2 linked regions of the Homo sapiens genome follow. The protein of the gene in region 1 interacts with the protein of each later gene in a pairwise test. Each region holds a gene or a part of one and is shown on either strand. Other genes may lie near its edges. The genes, in order: SAXO2 and FHL2.

What was found.
Region 2: the proteins of SAXO2 (region 1) and FHL2 interact in binary tests that used the Homo sapiens proteins (3 or more experiments, as listed by UniProt).

What each region holds. Positions count from the first base shown.
Region 1 is NC_000015.10:82,282,331-82,285,461, reverse strand, and holds the end of SAXO2 (stabilizer of axonemal microtubules 2), read right to left. Parts: coding exon 2,400-3,131; 3' UTR 535-2,399; downstream 1-534.
Region 2 is NC_000002.12:105,371,552-105,375,377, forward strand, and holds part of FHL2 (four and a half LIM domains protein 2), read right to left. Parts: intron 2,183-3,826; coding exon 2,008-2,182; intron 1-2,007. UniProt on the Homo sapiens protein: May function as a molecular transmitter linking various signaling pathways to transcriptional regulation. Negatively regulates the transcriptional repressor E4F1 and may function in cell growth.

The sequences.
Region 1 (3,131 bases):
CTTTAACTCTTTCACAGAGATAGAGGGTCCCTCTGTACCTATTTTTATGCTGTTCCCACCTTCCCATTTTTCTTGATCTGGCAATTTCCTACTTATCTTCCAAGATTCAGCTCACCTGTCCATCCTCTCCCTAAGGCAGACTTTCCTGAACTCCTAGGCTGAATGTCTTACATTGTTCTCTGTTTCAATCTCTATTTTCACACCTGTTATACTGAGTGTTAGATTATGGGGAAACGCCATTATTCATCTTCAATCCTTATCCCATGGCAAATTGCCTCTGGAAACTCTAGTAGATGTCTTATTAAGGGTGACCTTTGTCCAGGGAGGAGACCACCCCTATTAAATTACAGAGTGATTTGAATATCCAGCATTGGAATATGGGACGGGATGACAGAGTGCTGTAGTATTCCCTTCTTTTTAATTCTGATTACATTGTTTTGTATTTAAAAAGTAAGAACATCTACTTATGTATAGGTTAACCTAGACAGGACTTTATTAAAATGCTCTCTTAAAAAAAATTAGGTAAAGAAATGATTTCTTGAAAATCCATTCCTTTTATTGATTTTATTATGTTGCATGGAAATATAGTTTCACACACCATACTTTTACTAATAAATGTAAAGAACAAATTACTTTTGAACAATTAAAATAACCAAATATTGATTTTCAATAAAGTATATTTTGAAATAATTCTGAAGCCATAAAAGACTAAAATTCACTTTATGCTAAAATAAATCATATTCTCCCATAATGCAATTATTTAATTTTTTTAAAAAAAGAAACCACCCAATAAGAGTTTAATTCATTCGGAAATTTTTAGCATTTATAAATGCAATAGAGTGTTTCTACTATACTTACTGGCATCATTCTTTACCTTATCACTTATCTTCACACCGGAAGAGGTGAACCAGGTGATTATGCCCCCTGCTGGGGCTGGTTCTTCCTCTAAACAGTGACTTGGCCTGGCAATTAGGTGCAAAATTACCTACATTTACCCTAAAGATTTCTTCAGAGCTGTCAGTCTTCCTAAAACTACCCTAGCAAATAATACTTTTTCCTTTCTGCAAATACTGTTATTCAAACCACTGTATTTACCCCATTCCAAGCTTTCCATTCTCTGTTAAGAATTTCTCAGGTGCTCATGAAGTTTTAAAGGACAAGACTCCTCTCAGAAGTATATACTACTCATAAGCTCAAAGCAAATTAGGTTATTTTACAATCCTTGCTACAGGCCAGAAAATGAGCATTGAGTAAGTAATTATCCTAATTTGAAAAGGAGAAAACAAGTACAAAAAGAGATTGAGCAATTTTAAAAAAAAATCCTCCACATTTGTACTTTAAGGATTAAAATGTACCATACAGTCTGATGCTCAAAACAAACTCTTTTTGAGAACAGACATCATTTTACAAATAAAGACACTGAGGCTCAGAGATATGAGTCACTGCCTAAGGTAGTACAAATAGAAATCTATATTATTAGAACTTAAACTCAGGTTGGGTATAGTGGCTCATGCCTGTAATCCCAGTGCTTTGGGAAGCCAAGGTGGGATTCAATAGCAGCCTGGCCAATAGATTGAACAGCCTGACTAATACAGCAAGAACCTGTCTCTACAAAGTATGTTTAAAAAAAATAGCCAGGTGTGGTGGCACACCCTTGTAGTCCCAGCTATTTGGGAGGCTGAGGCAGGAGGATCACTTGAGCTCAGGAGGCTGAGGCTGCAGTAAGCTGTGATTATGCCACTGGACTCCAGCACGGGTGACAGTGAGACCCTGTCTCTAAAAATAATAATAATTATTAGTCAGAACTTGAACTCAAGTCCTTCGATTCCCAGCACACAGAGCCTTTCCTTGCCACACCACAGTGCCTCTTGCTAACTTGAACATGGTGAGGAGCAGTGCAGCAGTCTGTATACCACCAACCAAAACTTGATTCAGTGGATGCTATGTAGATGCCGTGAAGTCTGAGTATAATGAATCCTGTTGCCTTGGAAGAGGAATCCATGTATCATTTTCAATGTTGTTCTAGATAATCCTGATGTGCTTGATAAATGACAAATGGTATGTGAATAACCATACAATTGCCATAATTATAAACAGAATTACAAATGATAATAGACTGGGGACAAGCTACTAAGCAGTATGTTGAATACTAAAATAGTTCTCATGGGAATGCATATTATTCAACCTTCTGAAATGCACATTAAAGAACAATCTTGATTAAAATATCAATAAAAAATGGTTTTAAGATTCTGATTTCTTATAATATATTTTCCAATTTTCTTGTTTAAAAATATAAAAAATGATTTATTATATCATAAATTTTTTAACTATAAAAATTGAGTTTTCTCTTGGAAAAACAACAACTTGCTAGTACCTTCCTTTTAAGCACATTTTGGTTATTAGAAGGCCTTCACTGCAGGAATAATCTTGCGGAAGAATTTATGACCTTGGGAATTTGTATTGTCGAAAATATAACCTGGAGGAGAGGGATAGCTGGCTGGGCAAATTTCCTGTCTTTTCGGTGTGTACTCTACAGAGTACATGGTTACATCATCAAATGGAACAGAACTCTTAAAAGCAATATTTAAAGGTTTGCAACTCTCTGTTGGGATCAATTCATGTGGCACATAGTGAGATCTGAAAGTGCTCAAACCATCAAATTTTCCAGATGGGTTGGGAATCTGCTGCTGCTTCTTAATAAGTCCTTGACGACAACTTTCCCATGCTGGAAAATCTTCTTTCATGATGCTTTTTCCTTGGAAAGGAAAATTGTTACTTCTTTTTTGAGAAACTGGCCTGATGGGAACAACATGGTTGGCCTGATATGGAACATAGTCAAGATGGCTTGTGCTGTTTAACAGCATGCTACCTGTAGGAGGCACATACTCTGGTACTTTCTTGACCTCAGGTGGTGGGATTTCCCATGGTTGAAAACTTTCACGGAATTCAGTGCTTCCTTCAAACAGAGCATTCTGGGTCACTCTGGTGTGTACAGGTCTGCAGAGTTTTGCAGTTTCACCAATGAGACCCTGAAAGTCACACCGGTGAGTTGTGAGATCCTCAAAGCGTTGGTCAGTTGGTTTGTAAACTTCTTTTGGCCTTTCAAACTTGAGTTCAAGCTGATGAGGTAT
Region 2 (3,826 bases), on another chromosome or scaffold:
CTCTCTCTCTCTCTCTCTCTCTCTCCTTATGTATGTATCTATGTGTATACATTTCCTTGATTGATTCTGTTTCTCTGGAGAACGTGACTAACACAGAAAGTCAAGACAGGTGAAAAATTCAAAATCCGGGAAATATGCATACTTTTTATGTCATGGTTGGTGCTAACAGTTAAAGTCTTTAAACAGCCCCTAGAGTCCCCAGTGGAAGCTTCCTTGGGCCCTTGTTCAGGAAACTAGTAAGGGTTTAATTTGTTTTTCAATTAATGTCGTGGTTCTTATTGTTACTGAGTGTTGTGTCTCTGCAGTGACTCCCTGTGGGGCAGGACACAGGTCAGCCTGGCTTTCTACGGGCTTCAATTCTCATTTGCACTGTCGCACAGCACTGGGGCCCGAGTTTCCAGCCTCTGCAGGATCCACATGATCTTAGAAGAGGCCTTCTTGCCTGGAGCTGCCCCATCTAAAGTCACCATGCAGCCCTTCCAGCTGTTTTCCCTTACAGCTGCCAACAGGGCTGGGACTGTGTCAGCCTGGGCATTTTTCTTCCCTGTCATAGTGTGTCACAGTTGTTTTAAAGTTATATTAACCAGAGAAATGTAGTGGCAGTAAGAAACCATCTTACCAAAGGTCAGATTACCTCCTTGCCTTTTTAAAAAATGATTATTCCTTATCCTACATAACTTTCTTTTTTTTTTGAGACGGAGTCTCACTCTGTCACCCAGGCTGGAGTGCAGTGGCGTGATCTCAGCTCACTGCAAGCTCCATCTCCTGGGTTCAGGCCATTCTCCTGCCTCAGCCTCCCGAGTAGCTGGGACTACAGACGCCCGCCACTATGCCCGGCTAATTTTTTGTATTTTTAGTAGAGACAGCGTTTTACCATGTTAGCCTGGCTGGTCTCAAACTCCTGACCTCGTGATCCGCCCTCCTTAGCCTTGCAAAGTGCTGGGATTACAGGGGTGAGCCACCACACCTGGCATCCTACATATATTTCTAAACTATTTCCCATATGTCAGTCTCTTCAGTATTTCTTTATTATCAAAAACAAAGCAAACCAACATGATGAAACCCCATCTCTACTAAAAATACAAAAATTAGCCAGGTGTGGTGGTGCACGCCTGTAGTCTCAGCTACTTAGGAGGCTAAGGCAGAAGAATCTCTTGAACCTGGGAGGCAGAGGTTGCAGTGAGTCAAGATTGCACCACTGAACCACATTGGCCAGGCCGATTTCAAACTCCTGACCTCAAGTGATCCACCCACCTCAGCCTCCCAAAGTACTGGAATTACAGGTATAAGCCACCGCACCCAGCTTCTTTCTGTATTTTGAAATTCCACATATTTTTGTCCACTTTGCTTTTTAAAATAAAAGATTCTGCTCTCCTACATAAAAAACAAAACAAAACAAATAACTCCCCCCACATACACACACAAAAAAACCATGAGGGACACAGTCCCATCAACACACAAGGCACCTTTATTGCCATCCTCGGCACCTGGCCCAGTTGCGGCTGTGCCCTTTTTGACTGTCCGTCTAGAACACCAACTCTACAAGGGCAGAGGACCAGGTGCACCTCGGCTCACACCCTACGAATGCTCAGCTCGAGCCCAGTGCCTGGCACGCAAGGGCACCATGCACACTTGGTGAAATAACTGAATGAGTACAAATTCAGCAGGTAGAAGGGAAGAAAAGAGAAACTATCTATGGTGGTGGGAGAGTGGGGGCTGATGCAGGAGATGTATTTTTAAGGGGGATACCCACCATTTTCTTACTCTAACAATTTGACTGCATAACACTGCCCCACGTGCACAGCAAAAAGATCCCGTTACTGCCCATGATAGAACCTGTATGTCCCTGCTTCGTAAGTACTCTAAATACTCCTCTGCAGTTCAAGGTCAAACTGGAAAGTCAACACGAGTGTCTGGAACCAAGTCAATGTGAACAGGGGGTCAGAGGAACGTGCACAAGGCTTGAAGCTAGACTGGCTCACGCATGAGAAAGGAGTGCCTCCTGACCTGGCATGATGGTCTTCTTGCATTCCTGGCACTTGGATGAGTACTCGTTGGAATAGCAGTCTGTACAGAGCAGCTGGTCCTCCTTGGCAGCAAAGGGCTTGTCCACCAGTGAGTTTCTGCACTGCGAGCAGTGGAAACAGGCTTCATGCCAGTGCCGGTCCTTGTAAGACAAGTCCTGTGGGGCCAGACCACACAAGACAGTCAGAGGCAGGACAGGAGGGCTTGGACCCACAGCATAGGGGCCCCTTGCGAATCTGCAGGGCAAACAAGGAAAGAAGTTGGGCCGAGGCACCCTGGCGCACCCACATTCATGCCCCAGGACCACCTAACTGCTGAAATCAATTAAGACTAGGCTGCTTTTCTCTTGCTGCATTTTAGAGCAACAGGTTAGACAGATGTGCATGTATGCACATGTCTGTGTGTGAGAGATGCTTCTAAAAAACAAAGGGATTTCCCTTATGTATTGCCTGCAAGAAAGAGAAACAGAAAACATGAACACCTATCAATTCGTCTCACACCACATCCGGTGACAGAGAAACAGACTGCAGGACATCCTTGGCTGAGGGAGCCCTGCCCAACTCAGATCACTGTGGTCACCGGCATGGCAGAGAGGCTCTGGGTGTCGGGATGTTCACAGGAGGCCCAAGGACTGTTTGGTGGGAGACGGTCAGGAGAGACTGTGTGTGTGGGTGCTACCTCTGTGGGTGGCCGTGAGCTGGGGGAGGAAGGGAATTTCAGGCAGAGAAAGAGCACAGACACAGAAGATCTGGGGACGGGGGGCATGTCAGATTGGAGGGACCACAGGCCAGGGGCGAGGTGGGAGGGCCCCCCGGCCTGGCTGGACTGGAAGATATGGCTGCCTTTTTGCCTTTTATGTCTGTGTAGAGATTCCATTGATCCTGAAGGCAGTGGACAGCTGCTTTTCAACAGGAGAGTGAAGTGCTCAGACTGGGGGACGGGTAAGGATGTGGGAGTGGAGGGGCGTGAGGGTGGGAGAAGTGAGACAAAAACTGAGCACACATGAGAGAGGCCCTGAGAAGACAGACGTGTGCTTTTGAGTAAAAGATGAGGGAGAGAAAGGAGCCCCGCAGAAAACTCGACTCCACACTTGGCTTCATCTTGCCTGAGGAATAAGAGAACCCTCCATATTTGCCTTTTAAAAATGACATACGGCATTTTTAAAGTGCCAACACAAAATTAAAATAACAATCTCTTTATGCCCAGCTTTATCTTAGAAAGGATATGTTTCTATTGCTGTCTTTGTGTTCCCAGCTCTGACCCCAAATCATCATCCATTTATACATGAGGCAGAAACAGAGTATTAGGCTCTGCACGGTTTCCTGGGCAGGCTTCCAGTTGGTAGGTATCCTGAACAGGGCACAGGAGGGCTGTTCACGCGATGGCCCTGAAGAAGAGCCTGCCCACGATGTCTCTGTTACTGAAACCGAAGTCGAAGCTGGAGTTATGCTGAATGTAGGATGTGAAGACATGGATCTTGGCCTTGATTAGAAAGTCCTAAAACACCAGCTAACTCGGAACCAAAACTAGAACAAACAGTTCTCTTTTGCTGAAGTATGTGTGTGTGTGTGTGTGTGTGTGTGCGCGTGCGTGTGCACATGTGTGCATGTATGTGTGTTTTCCCGGAACCTGGAACCAAACTAGTTATTTGATTTAGTGATCTCTTTGCGCATTTTGTTTTAGTTCAAGGAATTTTAAAAATGTGAACGCTGAGACACTTTGAAGACAGTCATGACTATGGCCTTTGTGAGGGGTGACCTCTTGTGCTATCCCTGTTGGAAGTTTGCTTCCTAGAACATCT